4 linked regions of the Homo sapiens genome follow. The protein of the gene in region 1 interacts with the protein of each later gene in a pairwise test. Each region holds a gene or a part of one and is shown in the gene's direction. Other genes may lie near its edges. The genes, in order: SEC14L4, PLEKHF2, TRIM54 and ZMYND12.

Region 1 (7,025 bases):
CCTAGCCTGGTGTCCCCAGGTTCCTGCAAAATCCTATAGCTCCTGCTGTGTTCCTGCAGCACATGGAGTTCCGGAAGCAACAAGACCTGGACAACATTGTCACATGGCAGCCCCCTGAGGTGAGCCTCGAGCAGCATCCCCCAGGCCATCTGAGGCCCCTCACCCCTGACATCTCCCACCTACCACGTCCAGCCACCTGATGGAGTAGGGACCCAGCCTGGTGAGCTGGATTGAGTCGGGACCTTACCCACACTTCCAGGTCATCCAGCTGTATGACTCGGGTGGTCTTTGTGGCTACGACTACGAAGGCTGCCCTGTGTACTTCAACATCATTGGGTCCCTCGACCCCAAGGGTCTCCTGCTGTCAGCCTCCAAGCAGGATATGATCCGGAAGCGCATCAAAGTCTGTGAGCTGCTGTTGCATGAGTGTGAGCTGCAAACTCAGAAGGTGAGCAGCGGGGGTGGGGCTGGGCCTCATCTGTCTACAGGGTGGCACCAGGACCAGAGAAGGGTGGCACCCTGCCCCTCCCCAGCCCTCAGCACCCAGGGCTCTGGTGGAATGTGGGCTTCTCCCACCCTTACCCACCCGTAAAAGTGAGGTGTTGTCCATCTGTCTGGAAAACGCTGTGGGCTGCCAGAGGGTGGGATGGCAGGAAGGTGGGGAGAGGTGCCCAAGTCTCTCTGGCCAGGATCTCCTGGCTGGAGCTGTCGTCTGACCTATATGACTCTGTCCCAAGCAGCTGGGCAGGAAGATCGAGATGGCGCTGATGGTGTTTGACATGGAGGGGCTGAGCCTGAAACACCTGTGGAAGCCAGCTGTGGAGGTCTACCAGCAGGTAAGGTGGGTGGCTGGCTTGGGGCTGGTGTGGGCAGTGGCTCCCAGCTGTGAGCCCTAGCTGTGAATTGATGTGAGAATCCAGTGAGATAGAGGGGTGGGGATGCCTTGCAGGGGCTCCACAGACCAGCCAATGATGCTGGCCTAGAGACCACCCTCCACGGAGAAAGGGGAGCAAGATTAACACAAAGAGGCCAGGCGTGGTGGCTCACGCCTGTCATCCCAGCACTTTGGGAAGCCAAGGTGGGAAGATTCCTTGAGCAGGAGTTCAGGATCAGCCTGAGCAACACAGTGAGATGTCATCTCTACCAACAATAATAATAATTTTTACATTAGCCCAGTGCAGTGGCACGTGCCTGTAGTCCTAGATACTTGGGTGGCTGAGGCGGGAGGATCTCTTGAACCCAGGAATTCAAGGTCGCAGTGACCTGTGATTGTGCCACTATACTCCACCTTGGGAGACAGAGTGAGACCCTGTCTCGAGAACAAATCAACAAACAAAAAAAGAATAACAGAGAGGAAGAGGCACATGCTTGTGGGGAAGGTAGGATGGGCCAGGGATGGGCCTCTTGTCTCAGCAGCATCAGAGGCCACAGAAACCCATGGGCGGGAGGTGATGGAACAGAGCCCCAACCAGACTCATCTTGACTCCACAGTTTTTTAGCATCCTGGAAGCAAATTATCCTGAGACCCTGAAGAATTTAATTGTTATTCGAGGTAAGCCCATGACCGGGATGACCTCCTGGGGAGGGAGAAGCAGGAATTGGGGGTACAGTAGGTAAGCCATGGAGTTAAAGGCTTCTTCACCCATCCTTTGTGAAGAACCAGGTTTTGTGTGGTTGGTTTCTGGTTAGTTAGTTATTGAGATGGAGTCTCCCTCTGTCACCCAGGCCGGAGTGCAGTGGCATGATATTGGCTCACTGCAACCTCCGCCTCCTGGGTTCAAGCAATTCTCCTGCCTCAGCCTTCCTAGTAGCTGGGATTACAGGTGCACGCCACCATGCCTGGCTAATTTTTGTATTTTTAGTAGAGATGGGGTTTCCCTATGTTGGCCAGGCTGGTTTTGAACTCCTGATCTCAAGTCATCCAGCCACTTCGGCCTCCCACAGTGCTGGGATTATAGATGTGAGCCACCGCACCCGGCCTCTGGCTTTATTTTTTAGTTTCAGTCCTTCACAGACTGATATTTTTGTAATATACAAAATCATGCACTGGTATGTTTCAGCAATGTCAAGTTATAAGTTTCTAAATGTTTACTGTTACTTACTTATGTCAGTGTGGGCTGGGAACAGATAGTCCATGGACCACACTAGTGGATGGACACACTTTGAGCGGGAATGGTCCCTGGCTGCCCTGGTGATGTCATGTGTTCCAGAGTCAGAGGATCTGGTTCAAATCTAACTAGCTCTATGATTTTATCCAAGTCTACTTAACCTCACTGAGCCTCAGTTTTCCCATTATGTAAGATGGGGATACAATAGCCCCCTCCTCAAAGATAACTATGAGGTTAAATGAAACAGTGTGTGGAGAAGATGGAGCACAGAGCTTGGCCCACAGACAGTGCTCAGTTGAGTGTGAGCAATTCAGGGCAGGACAGGAAGTCTCATGTAGATGTCACACCCAAGAAGATTCCAGACAACCTGGAGTGTGGAAAAGAAGTGATACTGTTGGGGAATCAATATTGCTGACCCTAGAGCCAGCTTGTGCCCAATCCCTTACAACTGGGTTGGGGAGACAGCCATTTTTCTTTTTCTTTTTTCTTTTCTTTTTTTTTTTTTTTTTTGAGATGGAATCTCACTCTCTCACCCAGGCTGGAGTGCAGTGGCGTGATCTTGGCTCACTGCAACCTCTGCCTCCCAGGTTCAAGCAATTCTTGTGCCGCTGCCACCCGAGTAGCCGGGATTACAAGCATGCACCACTACGCTCAGCTAATTTTTGTATTTTTAGTAGAGACGGAGTTTCACCATGTTGGCCAGGCTGGTCTTGAACTGCTGGCTTCAAGTGATCTGCCTACCTCAGCCTCCCAAAGTGCTGGGATTTCAGGCATGAGCCACTGCGCCTGGCCTGAGACAACCATTTATTGAAAGCCAGGAACTGTGCCAGGTGTTATACATACATTATTTCACCTTCATTTTCCAGTTAACTGCACTAAGACTTGGAGAGGGTGGGTAACTTGCTGAAGGTCACACAGCAGAGAGTGGCAGAATCCATATCTGTCCACCTCCTGTCCAGCACCTGCTCTTGGCTGTGGCTCTGTATCCCCACGTCCTTTCTGGTCCAGCTTCTCAAGAGATTTACATGTGTTTCAGCCCCAAAACTGTTCCCCGTGGCCTTCAACTTGGTCAAGTCGTTCATGAGTGAGGAGACACGCAGGAAGATTGTGATTCTGGGAGGTGAGCGACGTGGCCCCCTGGTTGTGTCCATCTGCCTGGGAAGCAGAGGTCAATGCTAAAGACCCTGCTTCTCCCTGGCTCGTCCTCTACTCGGGCACTACCCCTGGCCTGACCCTGGTGAGCCTCCACACGCACGGGCAATGCCTTGGGTCCTAGACCGTGGGCTGGGAGCCACATAAAGGTCTTGGGTACTCTTAGGAGTAGGTGCCCGGGGGAGCACGCCCAGGACATATCAGGTTCCCTCACCAAGCTCAGCCCCCTCTGCCCTCTGTTGAGTCTCCTGAGTCCCTTTGGAGTCCCTCTCTTGCTCCCATGCAGACAACTGGAAGCAGGAGCTGACAAAATTCATCAGCCCCGACCAGCTGCCTGTGGAGTTTGGGGGGACCATGACTGACCCCGATGGCAACCCCAAGTGCCTGACCAAGGTACAGGGTGCCCAGAGGATGGGGAAGGAGGGGAGAAGCTGTGATCTAGTGCCCACACACCCCCTTCACCCACAGATCAACTATGGGGGTGAGGTGCCCAAGAGCTACTACCTGTGCGAGCAGGTGAGGCTGCAGTATGAGCACACGAGGTCCGTGGGCCGCGGCTCCTCCCTGCAGGTGGAGAACGAGATCCTGTTCCCGGGCTGTGTGCTCAGGTAGGGATGGCAGCCACTCTACACCTGGGCACATCTGGGAGGGGCCTGGAGCCCAGGCAGGGGGTCGCCAATGGGGCTCTATCCACTGCAGGTGGCAGTTTGCTTCAGATGGTGGGGACATCGGCTTTGGGGTTTTCCTGAAGACCAAGATGGGGGAGCAGCAGAGTGCTAGGGAGATGACGGAGGTGCTGCCCAGCCAGCGCTACAATGCCCACATGGTGCCTGAGGATGGGAGCCTCACCTGCCTCCAGGCTGGCGTCTGTAAGAGCTGCGGGGTTTACTGGAATTGTTTTCCCTGCCAGTCTCCCCTCTGCTTGCCCTCTCTTTCCAGCTCTCGGGAGGGTGGGGGGATCTCTGTAAGCTCCAGGGGAGCCAGCTTTGGGGCCATGGATCAGATGAGTGGCCCCTACCTGTAGGTATGAGGGCAGAGATTCATTGTGGGGGAAGAGCTGGTATTCAGAACCTAGGGCCTTGGGCTCAGCTCCTAAGAAGCCCCTATACCGGGATCACTGGACTAAGAGACAGGTAAGTAAGAGGCCATGGACTTAGAGTCAGGGGTCTTGGCAAGGGGACCACCCAGTTGCATGAACCACCCCACTCCAGGAGTCCCAAAGAGGTGACTTCCTCCAGGTGCTTATCATTCACCCCCAGGCCTTCCAGGCCAGATGCAGCTCAGTCAGCTTTACCAGAAGTAGCATTGCTCAGGGACACCACTGCCCTTCCACATCTATTGGGAACAGAGCTAGGAGAAGGGGAACCCAAGGTTGATTTCCTATGGAGGAGAAGGGTGTGGCTTATGCTTAAGTCAACACATTACCTTATTTCATTTTGTGGAAAGGGAGCATTAGGAGAGTAGAGACAGACAAGTCTGCACGACTCATCACACCTGAGTTCATGTTGGACCTTGGCATTGAAGGACATGCCTTCTGTGAGACGGAAAGCGGCTTATGTAGCCCAGCCCATTCCTCCTGGGGTAGCAGGGCTCCTCCCTGGGTTGGGACATCTGGATAAAGGAATCCCAGTACCTCCCCTCCCTTGCTCTGTGACCGCTGAAAGATCATATCACCTCTCCAAGCCTCAGTTTTCTCCTCTGTAAAATGAGGATGACATTGCCTTCCACATGGGGCTGCTTTGAGGATTCAGGGGCTATAATGTGTGATGGAATCCATGGTTCATGGAGAGGCCCAAGAGCTACCTGTGCAACCGCAACTAGGCGAGGACGCAGTACGAGCATACTGTGTCCGTGGGCCACAGCTCCTCCCTGCAGGTGGAGCTCGAGATCCCGTTCCCAGGCCGCCTGCTCCCTGGCTGTGTGCTGTTCTATATGCTGATGACCATCATGATTCCTTCATGTAGCGCAAGCCACCATGGAGATGGCAGCGAGCAATGGGCTTAGGGCTGGGCACAGGCTGGCCCTCAGGCCCCACCCACTGTCCTGGACAGCTCATTTCCAAGGGTTCCAGGGATGCAGGACGTTCCAGGGATGCAGCTCATTCCCAAGGGTTCCAGGGATGCACCCATGCAGGGCTGGCTCTTCCTGCAGATGTGCGGGGTTTGTGCTCCCTGATCACCTCTCCATCACTGCAGATGTCCTGCGCTTCGACAACACCTACAGCCGGATGCATGCCAAGAAGCTCAGCTACACTGTGGAGGTGCTGCTTCCCGACAAGGCCTCTGAGGAGACGCTGCAGAGTCTCAAGGCGATGAGACCCTCCCCAACACAGTGAAGACCCCAGCCACCTCTACCTGTGCACTCCAACCCCTTCACACCCACCCCTCTGACCCCTGCCTTCCCAGGCAGGGTGGTGCTGGAGGTGGCTGCAGAGAGCCACTTGTCCCACGTCACCATTTCATCTCATTGTAGGCTCACCTGGCACAGTGGCCAAGCAGGAAGGGGCCACCAGTGCATAGCCCATGCTGAAGATTCAGACAGGAACCTCTTTCCCTGTTCCCAGAGAATGCGGCTGAGAATGAGAACGCTGAAGATGATCCAGTCCACTGAGGATGGGTCCTGCTTGCAGAAGCTGCCCTTTCACCCATCTTGACAAGATCCAGCCACCCAGGACTCACCCATGCCTGGTGTTCCAGCTTCAGGGGGTGTGCGTGGTTCCTAGGTCCTGTGGACATCACAGCTTCAGGCCTGAAGAGCAGAGAAGCCCTGTTCTCTGCATGTAGGAGGTCAGCAGGGGTGGGCAGGCCCAGCTGGAGGCAGCTGGGTGAGGGTCCTGGTTCCAGCAGAGCACTGGGGCCCATCCAAGTTTGTTCTGCCACCACTGGATGGAAAATTGGAAATGGACTGGGCGTGGTGGCTCACGCCTATAATCCCAGCAGTTTGGGAGGCTGAGTTGGGCAGATCACCTGAGATCAGGAGTTCGGGACCAGCCTGGGCAACATGGTGAAACCCTGTCTCTACTAAAAATACAAAAATTAGCCGGGCATGGTGGCGTGCACCTGTAATCCCAGCTACTCAGGAGGCTGAGGCAGGAGAATCGCTTGTACCCAGGAGGCGGAGGTTGTAGTGAGCTGAGATCGTGCCACTGCACTCCAGCCTGGGCAACAGAGCCAGACTCCGTCTCTAAACAAACAAACAAACAAACAAACAAATAAAGAAAGAACATTGGACATGGAGAGGTGGGGCCTGGCATGGGTAACCATCAGAGGAAAAAGCCATGCTCAGCCTTCCAGTTGAGTGGGTAACGACTGAGTCTCCAGGGAATTCCCAGTGACCTCCCCTCCACACCTGCTGTGATCCTGCCAACATTTAGCTTTGGTTCTCTTGGCAGCTGCACCATTCATGGGTGCATATACGTAGAGTCTGAACAGGTGCTCTGCTGCTAGAAACAGCAAACCATCTAGATTAAACTCCTAAAGCCAGTGCCACGAGGCATTCCTGTTCCAACTGGGTGTTTGAGCAGATTGGCAAAAAAAAAAAAAAAAAAAAAAATGGCTGCGCTGGCTCCAAGGAGATGGCCTGGGCTGTCGGGCAAGAGTCACAGGACATCCCCATGTCCAGGGGCTGCCTCTGCATCGGAGATGTGACAGGCATCCCCACTACCCTGTTGCACTGCATGGCCACGCTGTCTGCTGCTTTCCCAGATGCAGTGATATTTGGAGTGCCCAGAGGCACTTGGGCTTCCATGGCAGGCTGTGGCCAACT
Region 2 (7,318 bases), on another chromosome or scaffold:
GCAGGTTTCAGACTCCAGGGAGACCTGTAAGTTCTGTGAGGGAAACAAGCAAAGGGCTGTGACTGAGAGTAACTGAGGACATAGTGTCCAGGAAAGGCCTCTCAGAGGACTGAAACATGACAAGGAGCCGCAGCTATGTGAAGGGCAGAGACTGTGGAGTTGTGACTATCCAGGTAGAGAGGTGTCCAGGGCAGTGAGCGCCACAGCAGCTCTTTTGAGCTTGATTTATTTTAGGAAATGATGGAAGGTCAATGTGAATGGCAGTTGGTGGAGTGTAGCATCATTTTAAGTTGGAGGGGATGGCAGGGGCTGGATTGTGCTGGGTCTTGTAGAACCAGGTGATGAGCTGGTATTTCGTACTAAGTGAAAGAGAAACGCTCTTATTCTATGTGGCATGTCTGGGCAAATTAGATTTCCATCTTGTTGGAAAATTGTTGTAAGATAATTTTGTTAGAATGAGTCATTTCACTAAAATCTGCCAGAAAATATTCATAATAAATATTAAATTTCCAGTGCCTCCAATGTGAATGCACTCTCCCATAGGGTTGTTCTACCACAACTGTACAATTCTATATGGCAGCCTCTGTGGGGAGCCATGGAAATGTTTCTTCAGGGAGTGACACAATCCTGTGTGGCTCCTGTGTGGAGGGGCCAGGAGGAGAGGAGAACAGATGAGATAAAGTGTTTTGAAGGTAGATCCTACAATATTTTGGAGATAAAGAGATTGGATGGAGGACATGGGAAAAAGGATGACAGGATGATGGCTCATCAGGTTTGTGGATGGCAGTGCCGTTTTACTGAGATGGGCAAAACTGGGAGAAGACCAGCCTTTAAAAGTGGAGGGGACAAAGAAATCAAGGAGTAATTAAAATCCAGGTATTTGCCATCCTATCATTTCTTGAATGTTCTATTTTCAATTAAAACTTAACCAAACTATTCACTTTTACAAGATACACGTTAGATTCAAGAACAATAACGTGATCTTTTTTGCCTTTCAGGATTAAAGAATCGGGTTAGTCAGTCTTGGTGGTGCATGCCTGTAATCCCAGTTACTGAAGAGGCTGAGAGGGAGGATCCCTTGAGCCCAGGAGTTTGAATCCAGCATGGGCAGCAAAGCAAGACCCAATCTCTTATTTTCAAATGTAAAAAATTAAAAAAACAAATTGGGGAAATATAAACTCAAGTTTTACTAATCTTTTCAAGTTCCTCTATGTTTTAACAATGTGTCATACACTTTACACATTATCTTATTTCCTCCATTCAGCAGTTTATGAGGAAGTTCCTTTTTTTTTCTTTCTTTTTTTTTTTTTTTTTAAGAGAAAGGGTCTCCTTCCATCATTCAGGCTGGAGTGCAGTGGCTGGATCATTGTTCACTGCACTGCACTGCAGCCTTGACCTCCTGGGCTCAAGGAATCCTTCCACATCAGCCTCCTGAGGAGATGGGACTCCAAGTGCCCAGCTAATTTAAAAATTGTTTTGTAGAGACACAGTCTCACTATGTTCCCCAGGCTGGTCTTGAACTCCTGGCTTCAAGCAATCCTCCTGTCTCGACCTCCCAAAGTGCTGGGATTATAGGCCGGGTGTGGTGGTTTACACCTGTAATCCCAACACCTTGGGAGGCTGAAGCAGGTGGATCACTTGAGGTCAGGAGTTTGAGACCAGCCTGGCTAACATGGTGAAAACTCGTCTCTACTAAAAAGAAAATACAAAACATATCCAGGCATGATGGCACATGCCTGTAATCCCAGCTACTTGGGAGGCTGAGGCAGAAGAATCACTTGAACCTGGGAGGTGGAGGTTGCAGTGAGCCAAGATCACGCCACTATATTCCAGTCTGGGCCACAGAGTGAGACTCTTGTCTCAAAAAAAAAAAAAAAAAATTGGGCGGGTGGGAGGATGGGGCTGGGCGTGAGCCACGTGTCTGGCCAGTAATTCCTATTTTTATCTTCATTTTACGGTTGAGATGTGAGGCTCAAAGAGCTGTCTTATCACTTGACTTGAACAGGGTACCACAATTACAGGTTCGGGTAGGAGTGAATCTTACTTCCTTTCAGTGACTTTTGAGTTCCCTGCTTTGTTCCAGATTGGTCAGTGCTATCCAATAGAACTTCTGCAATGATGGAAATGTTTTATATGTGCACTGTCCAATAGTCATGTGGCTATTAAGCACTTGAAATGTGGTCAGTGTGACTGAGAAACTAAATTTTTAATTTAAATAAATTTACATTTAATTAAGACATGTGGTTAGTGGCTACTGTATTTGTTAGCACAGATCTAAATCAACGGTCTCCAAACTGGGGTGCACGCAGCCCAGGGAGGGCATAGACTATGAAGAGTACAGAAAGAAAACATACATATATATATTTAAAATCATTATTTCTGATTTTTTTGTGTGTGTATGTTGTTTTTTAATGTACCTAACATACTAGGTATATTATAATAGGTGTATGTGTGTATATAAATACACACTATATATATCATACATATAATTCTGTGTGTATGTGTGACTGGGTCTTGCTATGCTGCCCAGGCTGGATTCAAACTCCTGGCCTCAAGTGATCCTCCAGCCTCAGCCTCCTGAGTAGCTGGGTATATTACATATGTAACAACTTTTATTTCACACTTACGTAGCACTATATAAATGTGTATATTATGTATGTAATAATTTTATTTCACACTTGTAAAGCACTGTGTGCCAGGTATATGCTTTACATATATTAATTCATTTCATCTGCATAATGACTCTGTGATATACTTTTATTATCTCCATTTTACAAGTGAAAAAACCAAAGTTATCTTTGGATGTGCCAAGGTTGTTAGAGACAAAGCCAATGTTTGATTACAGTCATTCTGGCTTCTATCTATGCACTTTACTTAAGCTAAATAAGTACATGGGAAGTGAGGAGGGCAAACATTTTTACTAATGTGAGTGACCAAAAATATTTGATAACTAATGCTCTAGGCTTGACCTTAGACAACCAGTCAGACATAGCAATTCCTACTTTCAAAATTTAAAAGGATTTTAGGCATTATTTAGTCCTGCCTTTTCCCCACTGATAGATATTGCTGTGCACGTAGAGGTGAATGAGGTAGAGTGATGGTACGGACAAGCGTCCTGGTGACATCTGTACTCATCTAGAGACAACTCTAACACACGAAAGATTGTGTGTGTGTGATCATACAATTTTCCCCATTTAAAAAAAGTTCATCTTTGCCAATTTTGTTCTAATTATTAATTTAAAAAAAGACTTGTTTGTTTCAGAGACAAACTCTATTGAAATAGGGGAGGATAGGAGGCAACAAGCCTGGAGGAGGAAGATCCCAGGTGGAAGAGCAGGGCGGAACCCAAGTCTGCTCTCATCCCTAGGTGCTCATCCACGTGCAGCTTGGCTGGTAGTGACTCTAATTCAACAGCAATCAAACACAGGTTAAAACAACTTACTGAAGTAATAGATGAATAAGAAATATAAAATTTACCAAAACCCAATTTCCTCCTACACACCACACACACTTTGTTTAAAATAAGTATGCTGTTCTCCCTACTTCGCCCCCATCCCTAGTCTACCCTAAGCAACTTCGTTACCTCTCTACGAACCCATCAGAGCGCTTAGCTATCAGATCAATTAGGGCACATTTAACCTTATATACTATGCAATAATTACAGTTTCTAGGTATGTGAAGTAGGCTGATGGGGTTTTGTGTCGTCAAAGTTTTGGGAAGACCAGAATTCTAAAGTATGCATTTAAAAGAAAGGGCTGGGTGGAGCACGTAGGGTATGTGTGTGTCGCCGCAGTTCCCTTGGTTTCAAGAGGAGGGATTTTAGGTAAAGCAAAGGGAAAGTGTGACGGAAAGGATTGCTGTGCTAAATGGGAGCAGCAAATGCCAGTACCGATGCCTTTGGGCATTTAGATCCAAAGCCTGCCTTTCTCGTTCTTCAGTTCCCCGGGGAGGCCTGTTGTGGGTGGGGAGGTGTCTTCCTTCTATTATTCCAGTCTCCCTAAGAACTTCGTAGACAGTTGAGCAATACTTTCTAAGGGCTGGTCGGAGTCAGGAAAGTCAGGTAAGGCGCCTCACGTGCACCTCAACGCGTCGCGGGAGCGCGTCCCGACCTCACACATGGACAAGCTCCGCCCGCGGCCGGCCTGAGTGGGTGTGGCCTCCGCCAAAGGCCCCGCCCCTAGAGCGCGTCGCGAGGGGCGCGAGGGGCGGGGCGAGGGAACTGGCAAGAAAGGGCGGGGAGCGAGGGGTGTGGGTGTGCTCGTGCCCGCGCGCTCGCGCCCGGAGTGTGGACGGGGGCGCGCCCGTGCGCGCGCAGGGGAGAGGCCAGCCCAGGCAGCCGTTGTCGGGTTCGACTGGAGGGGCGGGGGAGTCACCTGCGAGCGGCTGCGCTGGCGGCCAGCCCGCCCACCGCGTCTGGATCGCGCCGGCTGCGCGGGGCTGCGGACAGCACACACCCTGGAAGGCCCCGGCGGGGAACGGGCAGAGTCCGCGCCCTGCGTCCGCGACCAGGAGGATCGGACCTTCGCCTTCGCTGTCGCCGCCGCCGCCGCCCGCGGCCGTCGGGGTAGGTGAAGCCCGGGTGGGTGGTCCGCCGGCTCCTGACGGGCCGGGAGGGGAGACGCGAAACTTTCCGGGCGCTTCCTCCCGCGGTCCCGGAGCCGTCGCAGCGCCGGGAGGTGTCGTCGTCGCGGGCGGTGGCGGCCGACGCCATGTTGGGGTCTGTGAGAAACGGGGCGCTCCCGGCCGCTCCCCTCGCGCCGGGGCCGGCCCGCGGGCCAGTTGCCGCCGCCGTCCCGCCAGCCCGGGAGCGAGCCGCGCCCGCCCGTAGGACGCCGCCGCCGCCGCGGGGGGACGGGGGCCGCCGGGTAGGGTCCGGTCCACGGGTCTGCGGGGCGGGGGCCGGCGGACGCGGGAAGGAGCCCCGAGGCCGGGCGAGAAGTTGTGGGGCCTGAGGACGGGGGTCCTGGACACGGCCGGGGGCGTCTCAGGGTCGCGACAAATTTCTGGCCGAAAAGTTTGCAGGGTCTGCGTGTCGGGGACCTTATGACCTGAACTACATATTTGTATGTCACTTGGGAGACGAAAATGGCCCCGCAGAACTTGCTCTGATAGAAGCGATGGTTTATTTATTTGGAGCCTTTTCAAGTTTTATGATCCTTTGACGAATTTATTTTTCTTTTTAAAAATGTGATTGAAGGCCGAGAGCGCGCTGCCGGTGTTGCTTGAATAGCCTTGTGTGCTCTCCGTACATTCCAGCAATAACTTGAGTGTGCGGTGGAAGTGGGTATGAAGGTTACAGACACCTAAGCCCTCCTCGGTAATTCATAGACTCACAAAACGCGTTGTTGATAAATGCCTTCTTTGTCGTGTTGTGTAGTACGTTGCTGAAGAGACTCATTAAAGAAAGATTTAGACAGAAACTTTGAGAGTCTTAAAGGCATGTGTTCTCTTAAGAATAAGAAGTGATCTTGACAGTTTGAAGTTTTTTTCCCCTCCCTTTAGTTTCTTAAGGGTGAATGCCTACCGCGTTTTGAGCATTTACTTTTTTTAAATACTCTGGCAGCTCGTGGGGTCTTCACGTTAATTCAGTATTAACGAAGGCTTCATTATAATCTCTTTGGGTCCCGACCACACGGGGAATGAATGGTATTAAGCTATTTATTTGGAAAGCACACGTAATCGGCCTCTAAATAAAACTAGTATAGTGACTAAGCTTCAGAAGAAAATATTCAGCCTCAGTAAATGAATCTAAATGATTTTTAAATAAAGACATCTTGCTTTAAAATTCTGTTAAATGAACTGAAAAGGCTCTTAAACACAAATACAGTAAGCCCTAAAACCCCAAATTCTTGGAGAATTTTACTTTTTAGATCTAAAAATACAGCTTCTGCTCATATTTGATTGTCAATTTCTTTTTCCTTTTTTCTCTTTTTCCTTCCTTCCTTTTCCTTTTCCTAGACAGGGTCTCTGTCTGTCGCCCAGGCTGGAGTGCAGTGGTGTCATCTCCGCTCACTGCAGCCTCAAACTCCCGGGGCCCAGGTGATCCACCTCGGCCTCCTGAGTAGTTAGGACTACAGGAGCGCATCACCACACCTGGCTAATTTTTGTTTGAATTTTGTGGAGAGAAGGTTTTGCCATGTTGCTCAGGCTGTATTGCCAATTTCTGTTGTTCTTAAAAATTCTTTTAGTTTTGCTTCATTGTCAAGTAAATGGCATTATAACATTTTTTATTTAGAAATGAAATTAACTAATTTCACAAATGTAGCAGCCAAACTGGTATTTAACTGAGATCTTATGACTCTGAAGCCTTTTCATTTTTCCTGTAGCATAACTTTGTAGGATACATAACTCAGTCTTCTGGAGCAATCTGTCCATCTCGTTTGCTCTTATCACTGCTCTGACTTGAATTTAGTTCTTCAGTATAAATACTTATTTCCCAGCGAGCTGATTTACAGGTGATCCTTGTGATGAAATTTTTTCCTTAAAAATACTTAAGCCTATACTCTTTGAAGCCTTTTCTGCTCTGTTCTCTCATTCCACTCCCTTGCCCTCTCCAGAAATCAATTAATTTCTCCCATGGTATTACTGTAAATATCGCATAGATTCTGTCATGACATCTCCTTGACAGCAGGCAACACATCGGGTCTGATTTGCCTCTTCATTCCCTGCATGCCAAGAACATAGCAGATGCTCAGGAAAGGTTTGAATGGATGAGTACACGTATGTTTGTTCCTTGTAAATATGCTTCATGAATTTCTTTTGAAATTGTAAATTCCATGAGCATCATAGTTAAATCTTCTTTGTAGTCTTTTTCCCAATACATGCCATCAACTCCATTAAATCCACAGATTGGTTTTTATTATATATACACACACACACACACACACACACACACACACACACACACATGTTTTGTTGTTGTTTTGTTGAGAATTTAACTTAGTACCTGAGTGAATTTTCGCCTGGGGGTACAGAACTTGAATATTTATGAAATTTCTAAGTAGATAATGGATTAAAGTATAATTACTGATGTATGAGAGAGAAGCCATGGATCATCAAAAGGATTATAATCATAATTTTAAGTGTGATTGAATGTATTTGAACTTGATGGAAATATTGTTAATGCTTGAAAAATTTAAAGGTCATATTTATACATTTAAGCTCTTGGAACAAATCTCATTATAGCTCTATCAATTATTGTTTTGCCGGAATTGTCTTAGAATTTTTAGAATGCCCTGCTTAATAGAAAGTATATGAAAAATTTTTTTGTTGTTGTTTATCTTTGATGAACCAGCTTTGTACATGAGCTGCCTGCTTA
Region 3 (7,025 bases), on another chromosome or scaffold:
CTGGGCATGGTGGCACACCTGCAGTCCCAGCCACTTGGGAGGCTGAGGTGAGAGGATCCCTCGATCCCAGGAAGTTGAGACGACAGAGAGAGAGATCTTGTCTCAAAAAATTTTTTTTAATTTTTGTAAAATGCACATAACATGAAATGTACCACCTTAACCTTTTAAATGTACAGTTCAATGGCATTACATACATTTACATTGTTGTGAAACTGTCACCACTATCCATCCCCAGAACTTTATCACCACCCCAAACTGAAACCCCACACCCCTTAAACAATACCTCCCTACTCCCCCTCCTTCCAGCAACTGGCAACCACCATCCATCCTATGCCAGGTACCTCATTTAAGAGGAATCATACAATATTTGTCCTTTTGTGTCTGGCTTATTTTGCTTAGCATAATGTCTTCAAGGTTTATCCATGTTACAGACTGCAGACCTGGTTACTTTTAGCTGATAATTTCTATTGCAATCTATGTGACTTTTATCAGCATCATCCATTCTCCTGTCAAATGTGGATTTTTTTTCTGTGTTGATATTTACTTGATTTCTTTCCTTAATTCTGCCAGCTCTCTTTTCTTCTCCAGTTTTGATCACTTATATCTCTTTGTTTTTGTTATTTCTTTTAAAATGGTATATCGAAATGGTATTGATTCTTGGAGTATCTGTCCCTTGTTTGTCAAGCTTTCTTTTTTCTTTTCTTTTTGTATTATCTGGTTTGCATCTTTTGTTGGATTCTGTCTGCTTATCACTCCCCTTTTATCAGGGTACTTTTATCTGGAGCTGAAGGTGAATTCCTGACTCAACCCACTGTGTTTATCTTGGCTTTCTTTCACTGTCCTCTTAAATATAAGCTGCCTGGTTGGATGTTGTCATTGGTTTTGCAATCTCTCTTTAGTTCTGTGCCTTCTTTGGTGAATAGAGGGGTATGACCTGAATTAATAGGTAGTTGAGTGTCTCAATTTGGTTGTGTTGTCTTGGAGTATTTTTCACGCAGAATCCGGTGATTTATCTACCATAGAGGCCCACACAGGTCCATGGGAGGAGGTCTCCCCTGAGATTTGAGCTATTTCCTCTCCATTTCACAGACAAACAGGTCATTCTGGTTGAAAGCAGGGCCCTTATAGAGCTCCATGGCACACAGGGTTTTAATTTGATGAGTCATCTTTTGTTGATCTTTGCTTAAATAGCTTTAGTCCACAGTTGCATAGTTGATTTTCAGGCTGTAGTTTCTTTCCTCTGTGAAGGTTTGAGGTTTGTTCCTTCATTACCCTTTTACTTTTTTTACTTAAAAAACAAAAACAAAAAACGGCCAGGTGAGGTGGCTCACACCTGTAATCCCAGCACTTTGGGAGGCCGAGGTGGGTGGATCACCTGAGGTCAGGAGTTCAAGACCAGCCTGGCCAACATGGGGAAACCCCATCTCTACTAAAAATGCAAAAAATTAGCCGGGCATGGTGGCACGTGCCTGTACTCCCAGCTACTCAGGAGGCTGAGGCAGGAGAATCGCTTGAACCCGGGAGGTGGAGGTGGCAGTGAGCCAAGATCCTGCCACTGCACTCCAGCCCGACGACAGAGTGAGACTCTGTCTCAAAAACAACAACAACAATAATAACAACAACAACAACAGTAAAAGAAACTGCCTCTGCCTGAGACTCAGAGAAATGAATATTAGCTCTAAGGGTTTTTTTGTTTTGTTTTTTGTTTGTTTTGTTTTTGAGACAGGTCTCCCTCTGTCACCCATGCTGTAGTGCAGTGGCATGATCACAGCTCACTGCAGCCTTGACTTCCTGGGCTCAAGTGATCCTCCCACCTCAGCCTCCCAAATACCTGGGACTAAAGGCATGAGCCATCTTGCTTTTTCTTCTTTTTGTAGAGACGTGGTTTCACTGTACTGCCCAGGCTGGTCTTGAACTCCTGCACTCAAGCCATCCTGCTGCCTTGACCTCCCAAAGTGTTGGGATTACAGTCATGAGCCACCGTGCACAGCCTGGCCTAAGTTTTATTGTGTCTGACAATGGAACACAATGATTATTAGGACAGGCTCTGGAGTCAGAGTGCCTAAGTTCCAGTACTGGCTTTGCCACCTATTAGCTCATGACCGTGTACAATTTATTTAATTTCACTGAGACACAATTTCCTCATCCTTGAAATGGGGCTAAGACTATTACCTACTTCAGGGCCAGGCATGGTGGCTCACGCCTGTAATCCCAGCACTTTGGGAGGCTGAGGTGGGCGGATCATGAGGTCAGGAGATTGAGACCATCTGGCCAACATGGTGAAACCCTGTCTCTACTAAAATACAAAAAAATTAGCCGGACATAGTGGCAGGCGCCTGTAGTCCCAGCTGCTTGGGAGGCTGAGGCAGGGGAATCGCTTGAACCCAGGAGATGGAGGTTGCAGTGAGCTGAGATTGCACCACTGCACTCCGGCCTGGGCGACAGAGCAAGACTCCATCTCAAAAAAAAAAAAAAAAAAAAAGAGTATTACCTACTTCAGGGTTGATATGAGGATTAAGTGAATTAATACAAATGAAAGACTTAGAGCAAATCCTGGCTCAGTAGATGTTAGCCATTATTATTCTATTTCTTGTAGACTAAGTTAGGAGTGATTGTTCACCTCCTCGACCATCTTTTTTTGTTTGTTTGTTTTTTGAGACAGAGTCCTGCTCTGTCGCCCAGGTTGGAGTGCAATGGCGCAATCTCGGCTCATTGCAACCTCGGCCTCCTGGGTTCGACTCCAGGGTTTGAGTGATTCTTGTGCCTCAGCCTCCCGAGTAGCTGGGATCCTCAACCATCTTTACAAGAAGTTCTTGAGGAATAAATACAACAATGTCTGGAAAACCCATGACACGATGCTTGACACATGATAAGCCCTCAAAACATATTTTTTTTGAGACGGAGTTTCACTCTTGTCTCCCAGGCTGGAGTGCAATGGTATGATCTTGGCTCACTGCAGCCTCCACCTCCCGGGTTCAAGCAATTCTCTTGCCTCAGCCTCCCAAAGTATCTGGGATAACAGGCGCCTGCCACCGCACCCAGCTAATTTTTGTATTTTTAGTAGAGACGGGATTTCACCGTGTTGGCCAGGCTGGTCTCGAACTCTTGACCTCATGATCCACCCACCTCGGCCTCCCAAAGTGCTGGGATTACGGGCATGAGCCAGCGCGCCTGGTCTCAAAACATTTGTTGAATGTTAAGTAATGAGTATCCCTGCCTTTGTGGCTCAGGAAGAGGAAGGGTGCAGTGAGGGATGGAGGTTGGGGAGAGCGGCTGCCCAAGAGTTTATCTTTGCTGTGGGATATAGGTCCCCCTTCCTCCCATTCAAATATCTCTATATGCTTGCCATCAGCAAATCAAAGATAAGAAAGACAGGAGACTGCAGCCTTAGAGTTCTCCCAACACCTCTTTCCTCACTTGGGTTCTAAATATTGAAAAGTAATTGTATTAAGCAAACAAAAGGCAAGTGATTATACACTTTAACGCATTCCCTAAACTAAACTCAACAATATTCATACATTTCTAGCTACTGAGAAGGCAGATGTACAAACATGCCTTGAATTATCTCAAACTAATCTGCCCCAGGTTTATGATGGGCTTAAAGGTTAACATGATTCTCAAGAAATCCCAAGAAAGATGTGATATTTATGGCACACACCAGTTACTCTCCCCAAGATAAGCTGCTCACTTCACAGTGGGTCCACGTTTCCTGCCTTGCCTACAGCCCTTGCTACCAAAGGATCAAACAAGACCCTTGACTTGGCTGCACTCTGTGCATGATGGGGTGTTGCTGCACACACGCAAGGGGCCTTCCAAACTGTCTTCTGGTTTGTGTATGGTGTAAGGGTTTGGAGAAGTTCATGCATCCCAGTTGTAGGAAGTGCATCTCACTATGCTAGCTCATAGGTGACCACTGTCTCCATTACTCTCTAGGAATGCATAATCTTCCAGCCAGTTGGGATTAGGTTCTGTTCTAAGTGGCAGAAACCCCAGAATAACAGTGGCTTAAAGAGGGTAAAAATTTGCTTTATTCTCAAGTGAAAGTATGGGTGGACAGTGCAGGACTGCCTCATCAGAGACCTCCTTTCATCTCGTTACCATTCTCAACATGTGGCTGCCACTTCATGGCTCAAGACGGCTGCTTCAACTTGAGCCATCCCGTCTTCTTTCCAGCCAGCAGGCAGGAGAAAAGGGGAGGAGCAGGGCATGCCCCTCCCATGAAAGACGGTTTGTGCAATTTCCTACAAATTACACAAAACATTTGCATCTACATCCCAGAGCACAGCCAATTGGCCACACCCAGCTGGAAGGGAGGCTTAGATTCATGGGTTTTTTGGTTTGTTTTTTTGAGATGGAGTTTCCCTCTGTTGCCCAGGCTGGAGTGCAGTGGTACTATCTCAGCTCACTGCAGCCTCTGTCTCCTGGTTTCAAGCAATTCTCCTGCCTCAGCCTCCCAAGTGGCTGGGACTACAGGTGTGCACCACCGTGCCCAGCTAATTTTTTTATTTTTAGTAGAGATGAGTTCTTGCTATGTTGCCCAGGCTGGTCTCAAACTCCTGAGCTCAAGTGATCTGCCCACCTCGGCCTCCCAAAGTGCTGGGATTACAGGCATGAGCCACCACACCCAGCCCTTTATACCATGTGTCTTGTTAAAACTCAGGGCACTTATTATTAAAGAAGAAAAGGTGGTGAACGTCAGGGTACAATAAGCAGTGTCTGCCAGTCTTTCATCTCTGCATCTCCCCACACATAGACTCTTTTCTCTGTAGACCAGCCTTCTCTGTTCAGTTTCTGACCCCTTACACTTTCCAGGGTGGCCGTGATGTCAGCTCTTAGCCCAATTCCACAGGTCTATTCAATTCCTAAGCAGAACATGGCGTAGCCAGCTAAGCCCCTGAGTCTCAAGTCCAAATTCTTAGGAGAGAATATTTGATTGGTTCTGCTTGGGTCAGGTGATCACCTCCTTAGCTCTGAATCAATCATCTGTGGCAGGGATCTCCCTTCTAGGATAGGATGGAGCAACTACTCTAGGCAAGAGATGTAAGCCGGAGGAAGTGATGGGTGTCTGTTAAGTCCTCCTTCTGAGCCTACCCCTATCACAACACCCATCCTGCTGGATGCAGTTGTCAGGTGCTTGTCCTTAGGACAGGATGCATTTTCTTTGTATCTTTAACTCAGAGTCCAGCAACTACCTGGCACACTATAAATGAATAATTTTATCCTCAGCTTTACAGAGGTTGAATACCTGCCTAAATTTATATACTTAAGAGGTTGGGCATGGTGGCTTACGCCTATAATCCCAGCAATTTGGGAGGCCGAGGTGGGAGGGTCACTTGAGGTCAGGAGTTTAAGACCAGCCTGGGCAACATAGTGATACTTCATCTCTACTAAAAATAAAAAAAATTATCTGGGCATGGTGGCACACACCTCTAGTCCCAGCTACTCAGAAGACTGAGATGGGAGGATTGCTTGAGCCCAGGAGGTCGAGGCTGCGGTGAGCTGTGATCCCACTACTGCACTCCAGCCTGGGCATCAGAGAAAGAACCTGTCTCAAAAAAAAAAAAAAAAAAAAAGGCCGGGGGGAGGGCATCAGAGATAGCACAAGAACCCAGGACTCCTGACTTCCAGTTCCTGGAGCAATTTTCTAGAATTACCTGGCTAGTTACAGTTTGTGAACCCCATTGTTGAGCACTTGTATCTGCTTGTACCCCTGCCCAGGACTGCAGAGAATCTCCTCCAGTTGTGGCCCAAGAGGGCCCCAGACTGGAAGACATTGGTCGCACCACTCAGAGTTCATTTCCTGCCTCAGCCTTATTGCCAAGACCAATGTCTCCCCATGGCTCCAAGCTGGACCCCTTTGGAGAGATCCCATCCTGACTATGCCTTGACCAAAGCTGAGTTCTGGATGCAGGGGCACTCTAGGAGGTGGGCTGAATAATGAGGCAAAGGTGGGAAGCAGGGTCTCCATGGCCGTCCACCGTGCGCTGCTCTCAGAGGTGGATCCAGCCACAGAGAAGAGCTGACATCTTCCCCTCCATCAAGTTCCTACTCCCTAGCCCCCAAGCCCTTTCCCCCTGCCTCCTCCGAGTCCCTTCATGCCTCCCCGTGCCTGTTCTCTCAAGCCATCTGTCCCTGCAGGCCTCGAATCCTCTATGGCAGTCCCGGGGCTCCACCACTGTGTCTTCAGGAGGCCGTTTCCGCTGCCCATCGTGCAGGCATGAGGTTGTCCTGGACAGACACGGTGTCTACGGCCTGCAGCGAAACCTGCTAGTGGAGAACATTATCGACATTTACAAGCAGGAGTCATCCAGGTGAGCCACCAGAGTCTCTTGCCTCTCTCATGACAGGGCTTGGGACACAGCCAAGGAACCCATCAGAGCCAAAAGGGAGAGATTGAAACGGTCAACCTGCCTGTTCTGTCTAGAGACCATAGGACTGGATCCGGAGAGGGACTTGCCTCAGGCCTCCCAGAGAGGGCAGTCTCTGATTCCCTAGCCAGTACTTCACTCCTACCCTCTCCTCCTGGGAGAGGCTGGCAGTCCACCAGCAAGATCCTCGCTAACCCTCCAAGACTTCCTGTCCTGTGGGACTTCCCTGCCCCCTTGTAATACAGACTGTTCTCGGATCCAGGCCTCCTCTATCTCTTAGCTCCTTCTGTTCCCCAAATTCAGAGCTCTGTGGAAGTACTCACCAGTTCAGCCACAGCACTAGCTGCAGGGGCGGAGAAGGTGGTGGCAGTTGGTGGAGGCTGAAGAGAAGGTATTCCTAGGACCCTTCATGCTTAAGGTCCACCTCCCCCTGCCCACTCCTCTCTAGGCCGCTGCACTCCAAGGCTGAGCAGCACCTCATGTGCGAGGAGCATGAAGAAGAGAAGATCAATATTTACTGCCTGAGCTGTGAGGTGCCCACCTGCTCTCTCTGCAAGGTCTTCGGTGCCCACAAGGACTGTGAGGTGGCCCCACTGCCCACCATTTACAAACGCCAGAAGGTATCAAACAGGGGAGGGAGTAGATATGTGAGAGATG
Region 4 (7,025 bases), on another chromosome or scaffold:
GCTAGATGTATAAGAAAGCACTTATCGATGATAAAACTCTGTACAAAGTTAGATGGGATGTTGAGGATGATAACTGAATTGTTCTTTCAAAATTTAAGGGGTTTCTATTAGGATTTCAGTACTGGAAAATATTACCAGAGAAAAGAGTTCCTGGGCGTGAAATCTGAGTTAGCGTAGAGTCAGACTGCAGTCTCCATGCAGGTTGGTTCTCTCTTCAGCCTCTCTTCTGGCCTCTGCACCAAGCAGCCCTTCCTCTGGTTGCCCGCCTGTACAATGCCCGTAAATTAAATTTTACGCTGGTTATTCTTTAAATTCCACTAACCCATATCCATTCTCTGCCCTACTCTATGCCCTGGGAGCCTGACCTCTATGGACTACACAACCTCTATGGACTCCATTGCTCTCTGGCCTTGGTTGGGTTTGGAGAGTGGAAGGCATAGTAGGGGAGTGGAGAGTAGGAGGAGAAAAAGGCTGGGGTACTGATTCTCTCTGCTGCCTCTCTGCCCCACCCCTGATCTGTCAGGAACAGTGTTCCTCTGTGGCCACAGCTCCTGTCAGGCAGCCTTCTTCCATAGTGCTAGCTCTTGCTGGGCCCTGGTAACCTTGTTTCCTCCCCTTGCTGTTTCAGGTGTAGGGATGGTAATAGTTTCTTGCTGTTGGTAGTCCCTGGTGTTTCACTAGGCTTTGTTGGTTTTACTCGTAGGGCTTTTCCCTAGCCCTTGTTGGTTTCTTAACCCTTCTACATGTCAAGTAATAATTCCACTAAACTATCTTCAGGCAATCTTATTGAGGGTGCCATCTAGTTCCACCTGGGCTCCTGACTAATACAATTCTTTGTGTTTCCTCTCTATACTCTACATCCTCCAACAAATTAAGCAGAGGCACATTCTGTCCTGAGCTGGGCCACACAGTTAAGAATTAGTAGGCCAGGTGTGGTGGCTCACGCCTGTAATCCCAGCACTTTGGGAGGCTGAGGCAGGCAGATCATGAGGTCAGGAGTTCGAGACCAGCCTGACCAATATGGTGAAACCCCGTCTCTATGAAAAATACAAAAATTAGCTGGGCGCAGTGGCTCACGCCTGTAATCCCAGCACTCTGGGAGGCCGAGATGGGCGGATCACCAGAGGTCAGGAGTTCTAGATCAGCCTGACTAACATGGTGAAACCCCGTCTAAATATACAAAATTAGCTGGGTGTGGTGGCATGTGCCTGTAATTCCAGCTACTTGGGAGGCTGAGGCAGGAGAATTGCTTGAACCTGGGAGGCAGAGGTTGCAGTGAGCCAGGATTGCGCCACTGCACTCCAGCCTGGGCGACAGAGTGAGACTCAGTCTCCAAAAAAAAAAATATGAAAATTAGCCAGGTGTGGTGGTGTGTGCCTGTCATGCCAGCCGCTCGGAAGGCTGAGGCAAAAGAATCACTTGAACCCGGGAGGCGAGGTTGCAGTGAGCCAAGATCGCACCACTGCACTCCAGCCTGGGCGACAGAGGGAGACTCTGTCTTTAAAAAAAAAAAAAATTAGCACAAGCTCAGATTCCTTAGCCTAGCTTTTTAAACACACACACACACACACACACACACACACACACACACAGAGCTTTATTGATATATACCATAAAATTCACCCATTTTACGTGTACAATTAAATTATTTTTAGCAAATTTACAGAGTAGCGCAACCATTAGCACAATCAAGTTTCAGAACATTTCCATTACCCCAAAGAGATCCCTTGTATCCATGCGCAGTCATTTCCCATTCCTGTTCCAGCCCCAGCAACCACTTCCTGTTTCTACAAATTTGCCTTCTCAGGACAGTTCATACAGACAGCATCATGTGTGGTCCTTTGCATCTGACCTCTTTCACCTAGGGTGATTATTTTGAGATTCATCCATGTTGTTGCATGTATCAACAGTTCATTCCTCTTATTGCTGATTAGCATTCCATTGCCTGGATATACTACAATTTGTCTATCCATTTATCAGTTGATGGACATTTTGGTTGTTTCTATGTTTTGTGTATTTTAAATAATGCTGATATAAACATTTACGTACAAGTCTTTGTGGGTAGGTACTTAGAAGAGGAATTTCTGGGTCATGTAGTAACTCTATGTTTAACTTTTTAAGGAACTACCAAACTGTTTCCACAGAGGCTGCACCCTTTTACATTCCCATTGGCAATGTGTGAGGGTTTCATTTTCTCCATATCCTTCCCAACACTTTTTATTTTCTGTATTTGATTCTAGCCATCCTAGATGCAGTGATATTTCATTATAGCTTTGTTTTGCATTTACCTAATTACTATGTTAGTATCTATACATGTGCTTATTATTCATCTGAATATCTTTTTGGAGAAATGTCAATTCAGATCTTTTGCCCATTTTTAAATTGGAATGTTGTAACAGTTTTTTGTATGTATTCTAGATACAAGTCCTTTATCAGATATATGATTTGCAAAAGGAACTCAAGCACTCTCCTTCTTCCTTCTGCTATAGATTTATTTTGCCAGTTGTGCATTTGGAACAGAGGACATTAGGACTTCAGGAGGCTACTTCCACCTGGCTAATATATTCTATGACCTTAAAAAGTTGGACCTGGCAGACACATTGTACACCAAGGTGAGCTGGGGAATGTGGGAGCTGAGCCTTCACTCTTAGGCTTGGTGTCTTACAACTTGTATTAGACTATTCATGAAAAACATACCATTCATGAGAAAGAGAGGCACAGAGAGATGAAGTGGCTTGCCCAAGACTATATAGCCTGATACATGATATACTCCATTTTCTTTCTTCCAGTGTCTCCACTACCAAAATAGACTAACCCTTAACATCCGTAGGGTGATTAACGAATAATGAAGGACAGGTCAGTAAGAGCCAAACCCCTTCAGATAGACTGTTGTATGCTGTGTCATACCCATAGCAGCAAGCTAATGTGGGCTTATTGAAGTGTGCGATAGAGAAGGAGATTTCCAAGGGAAGTCTGTTGCTACAAGATCCTGTCAAGGGATCCAAGAACATGAGAAATTTCCATATTTACATGTAAAATATTTTAAACTGTTTCCAATATATTAAAATGTCAGCTGTATCCATATAGTAACACCTCACTTAGCAGGCAATCATTTGTGTAATAAATGTGTAATACAGGCTTTCTGCTGATTGTTGATTCATGTTTTAGACCTGCTTCTGAGAAAGAGGCATTTTGCTGTAGTTTAAAAGCTTTAGAATCAGATAGACCAGGGTTTAAATTCTGGCTATGCCACTTAACAGCTCTTACCAGAAGTCGTGTGTGATCTTCTCTGAGCCTCGGTTTATTTACATGTAAAATGGGAATAATAAGAATATTACATCAGGATGTTGTGAGGATGTGAAGGTTTCGTGTTGTGTGTGCTATACAAAAGATAACCACTGTTATTAGACCCCACTAGGGCTACCCCAAGATGAGCTGCCACAGGCCCTTTTCAGCCCATCACTTGTCACACTTACCTTGGCCAGGCCTGTTTGGGCTCCTAGGGTTCCCTCTGCCTCCAGGCACAGTAAGAGAGAGAACCTCCAGGTTGTCCAGAAGCCCGGCCAAATGCGCTACTCTCCTCACCTGCCTGGTCCGACGGCTGAGGTCTGGCCTGCTTGTTGTATTACCATCTCTTTTCCCAACAGGTCTCTGAGATCTGGCATGCATATTTGAACAATCACTATCAAGTCCTCTCACAGGCTCACATCCAACAAATGGATTTACTGGGCAAACTATTTGAGAATGACACTGGCTTGGGTAAGTGGCAGTTTTCCCTGAAGGGAGAGCAGTGACTTCATCTCACCCAATACACAGACCTTGTCCCTAAGAGGGAAAGCAGCTGTCCCTGTCATGAAGCACACCATTGCCACCTTCCCCATGTTGCTGATGGAGAAAACTGAGACACGGGGATCAAAGAGATTTTACCAGTGTTGGGAAGAATTCAGATCCCTATCATCACACATAGCCATTCGGGGGTTACTAAGGGACAGATTTAGAGGGAAAAAAAGACCACATCAAAGCCCCCTGTGATTTCTGCAGAGCATCCATTTCTATGTTATCCCTCCAGGGCAGCAGTCCCAATCTCTCCCTGGCACCAGGGACCCGTTTCATGGAAGACAATTTTTCCATGGACTGGGGGGCGTGGGAGGAATGGTTTCAGGAGAATTCAAGTGCATTACATTTATTGTGTACTATGTTTTTATTATTATTAATATATTGTAATATATAATGAAATAATTATACCATGCATCATAATGTAGAATCAGTGGGAGCCCTGAGCTTGTTTTCCTGCAACTAGATGGTCCCATCTGGGAGTGATGGGTGACAGTGACAGATCATCAGGCATTAGATTCTCATAAGGAGTGTACATCCTAGATCCTTTGCATGCACAGTTCACAATAGGGTTCACGCTCCTAAGAGAATCTGATGCTGCTGCTGAACTGACAGGAGGTGGAGCTCAGGTGGTAATGCAAGCAATGGGGAGTGGCTGTAAATACAGATGAAGCTTTACTCGCCCCTACCACCCCTGCTCACCACCTGCTGTGCAGCCCGATTCCTAACAGGCCACAAAACAGTTCTGGTCCATGGCCTGGGGGTTGGGGACTCTTGCTCCAGGACACGTAAGCCAAGGTAGACTCTACACAGAAGGTGCATTGCTGATTTCTTCTGGTGCCTTAACTTCATGCTTTACTGAACAGTGAGCTTCTCAGTGGCAGGGCCCAGTTGGATTAAACTGTATTCCCCGGGCCAGCAAAGGGCTAAGTGTTGAATAGTACCGTACAGCATCATGCCCTCAGAGACAATGAAAAGACACAGAGGATCTAGTTTCTGCTCAAAAGAGACATACAGTGCAGTTGGTGATATAGAACCTATAGGCAATAACAAAAGAACATTCCTGTGAGTACAAATTATGTTACAAGATGAGTCCCAGAATGAAGAGGTGAGGACAGCTGGGTGGTGTTGAAGAAGGAAGACTCTTTGGAGGAGAGGTTTTGAGCTAAAGTTTAAAAAATTAATAACTTTATTGAATTTTCTCTCATTATGTAAATAGTTCATGTTATAGCTGAAAACTTGGAAATCATAGATATCCAAAGATAGCCAACCTTAACATGATGGTGTATATCCTTTTCGTCTTTTTCTCTAAGCTTAGTACTTGTATAAGTGCTTTTAAATGCATGTAGTGACTTCTCAGTAAATGATGACTAAAGTAGGACCAAAAACTACTGGGGAAAATAGTAAACAGACTCTCAGAGGGAAGCATGAAGGTTGTTGCTTACGCATCTATGGCCTAGACGAGAAGAGTTAAGCTGCTGCAGCTGCAAGAAGTCCCTTCCCCCAGTTCTCTCCTCTCAGCTGTAGAGTGGAATCTGAGTTGGACCCAAGGAATCTGCCTGTGGCAGATTATCTGTGTTTGTAAGCCCAAGAGATCTAGAGTTCAGGACTCCGAAAGAGAGAAACCTTAGCAACTTTGGGACCTGTGGGAGTGAGCCTATTTTTAGGCTACTCTGATAATGGCATGCTAAGCAAAGCTGGAAAGCGGTCTGAAACTCCTGCTTCGGAGCTTCCTGCTTTGCACCTGGAGGGAGTCCTCTAGGTAAAAAACTTGCTGTAATTGGTGCTATTTCCACCAGTGCCCTTGGGAAGGCTTCAGCAGACCAGGCGCTTTAACAGCTGAGTGCTTTTGATGAGGGCAGACTCAGTTGCCAAGAGCCTGTTTTTTCTTTCTTCCCCTTCCAATGCAGATGAAGCCCAAGAAGCAGAAGCCATTCGCATCCTGACTTCAATCTTGAACATTCGAGAATCTACATCTGACAAAGCCCCCCAAAAAACCATCTTTGTTCTGAAGATCCTGGTCATGTTTTACTACCTGATGATGAATTCTTCAAAGGCAAGTTTCCCTAAAAAAGCAACACGTCTAAAATGAAGGTAGAAATTCAACTAGTTGAACTCAAAATTTGTGTTTTGCCCAATTCCAATAGCTTTTGCCCTCAGAGCAAGCCCTCACTCCAAAGAGGTTCAGATGCTCACGATGTTTCTCCTGTGTTGAGTCTAGCCTGCATAATGGAAATTGGATTGTCTTCTTCCCCCGAGGGTTCCCAGTCTTGCATAGATAAAGAGAGTCTGAGGCAGTGCTGGGAAGCCTGCAGGGCAGGAAGGCTCTGGGGAGCCTTGGATGGATGAAGTAGCCGCTCTAACTCCACTCAGTTACTGAGTTCCCTGTTGCTGCGGGGATTCAGGCAGAAATGCATTGCCATGAAATGATTCAAAAAGTAACTTTTTGAGTACTTTTACCTACCAGTTATTGGCCTAAACCCTTTACATAATTATCATACTTAATGCTTACACCAACATTAATGAGGTAGCTATTTTATTATCTCTACTTTACAAACAAGGAAACTGAGGCACCGAGAGGGTCAATTCTTTGCCCAATGTCTTACAGACAGCAAGTAGCATATCTCAGGTTTATTGACTTATTGGTTGATTCTCTCATTCATTCAAACATTTATTGAAAATCTACCATTTGTAAAGCACTAATCTAGGGACTGGGGATACAGTGGTGATCCATACGTTTCCTATCTCTATGGCACTGGTGTTTTTTGGAGGAGTGGAAATAAACATATGTATGTGTAATATAATTTCAGATAGTAGAAACTGTTATAAAGAAAACTAGCCAGGCACAGTGTCTCATGACTGTATTCCCAGTACTTTGGGAGGCTGAGGAGGGATGATTGCTTATGTCCCGGAGTTCAAGACCAGCCTGGGCAACATAATGAGACCCACTCTCTACTAAAAATAAAAATAAAAAGATCAGCCGGGCTAGAGGTGTGCACATGTAGTCCCAGCCACTCGGGAGGCTGAGATAAGAGGATTACTTGAGCCCAGGAGATTGAGGCTGCAGTGAGCCGTGCTTGTGCCTCTGCACTCTAGCCTGGGTGACAGAGCAAGATCCTGTCTCAAAAAAAAAAAAAAGAAAAAGAAAAAGAAAAGAAGAAGAAGAAGAAGAAAAAGCAGTTGGCAGGGGG

Evidence for each region.
Region 2: the proteins of SEC14L4 (region 1) and PLEKHF2 interact in binary tests that used the Homo sapiens proteins (3 or more experiments, as listed by UniProt).
Region 3: the proteins of SEC14L4 (region 1) and TRIM54 interact in binary tests that used the Homo sapiens proteins (3 or more experiments, as listed by UniProt).
Region 4: the proteins of SEC14L4 (region 1) and ZMYND12 interact in binary tests that used the Homo sapiens proteins (3 or more experiments, as listed by UniProt).

Annotation. Positions count from the first base shown.
Region 1 is NC_000022.11:30,488,677-30,495,701, reverse strand, and holds the end of SEC14L4 (SEC14-like protein 4), read left to right. Parts: intron 1-59; coding exon 60-119; intron 120-259; coding exon 260-448; intron 449-740; coding exon 741-836; intron 837-1,491; coding exon 1,492-1,552; intron 1,553-3,144; coding exon 3,145-3,228; intron 3,229-3,546; coding exon 3,547-3,653; intron 3,654-3,728; coding exon 3,729-3,868; intron 3,869-3,959; coding exon 3,960-4,129; intron 4,130-5,455; coding exon 5,456-5,595; 3' UTR 5,596-5,823; coding exon of another isoform or gene 5,824-5,825; 3' UTR 5,826-6,800; downstream 6,801-7,025. UniProt on the Homo sapiens protein: Probable hydrophobic ligand-binding protein; may play a role in the transport of hydrophobic ligands like tocopherol, squalene and phospholipids.
Region 2 is NC_000008.11:95,129,467-95,136,784, forward strand, and holds the start of PLEKHF2 (pleckstrin homology domain-containing family F member 2), read left to right. Parts: upstream 1-4,318; 5' UTR 4,319-4,564; intron 4,565-7,318. UniProt on the Homo sapiens protein: May play a role in early endosome fusion upstream of RAB5, hence regulating receptor trafficking and fluid-phase transport. Enhances cellular sensitivity to TNF-induced apoptosis.
Region 3 is NC_000002.12:27,292,429-27,299,453, forward strand, and holds part of TRIM54 (tripartite motif-containing protein 54), read left to right. Parts: intron 1-6,138; coding exon 6,139-6,311; intron 6,312-6,816; coding exon 6,817-6,988; intron 6,989-7,025. UniProt on the Homo sapiens protein: May bind and stabilize microtubules during myotubes formation.
Region 4 is NC_000001.11:42,432,008-42,439,032, reverse strand, and holds part of ZMYND12 (zinc finger MYND domain-containing protein 12), read left to right. Parts: intron 1-2,489; coding exon 2,490-2,612; intron 2,613-3,647; coding exon 3,648-3,759; intron 3,760-5,744; coding exon 5,745-5,890; intron 5,891-7,025. UniProt on the Homo sapiens protein: Required for sperm flagellum function and male fertility.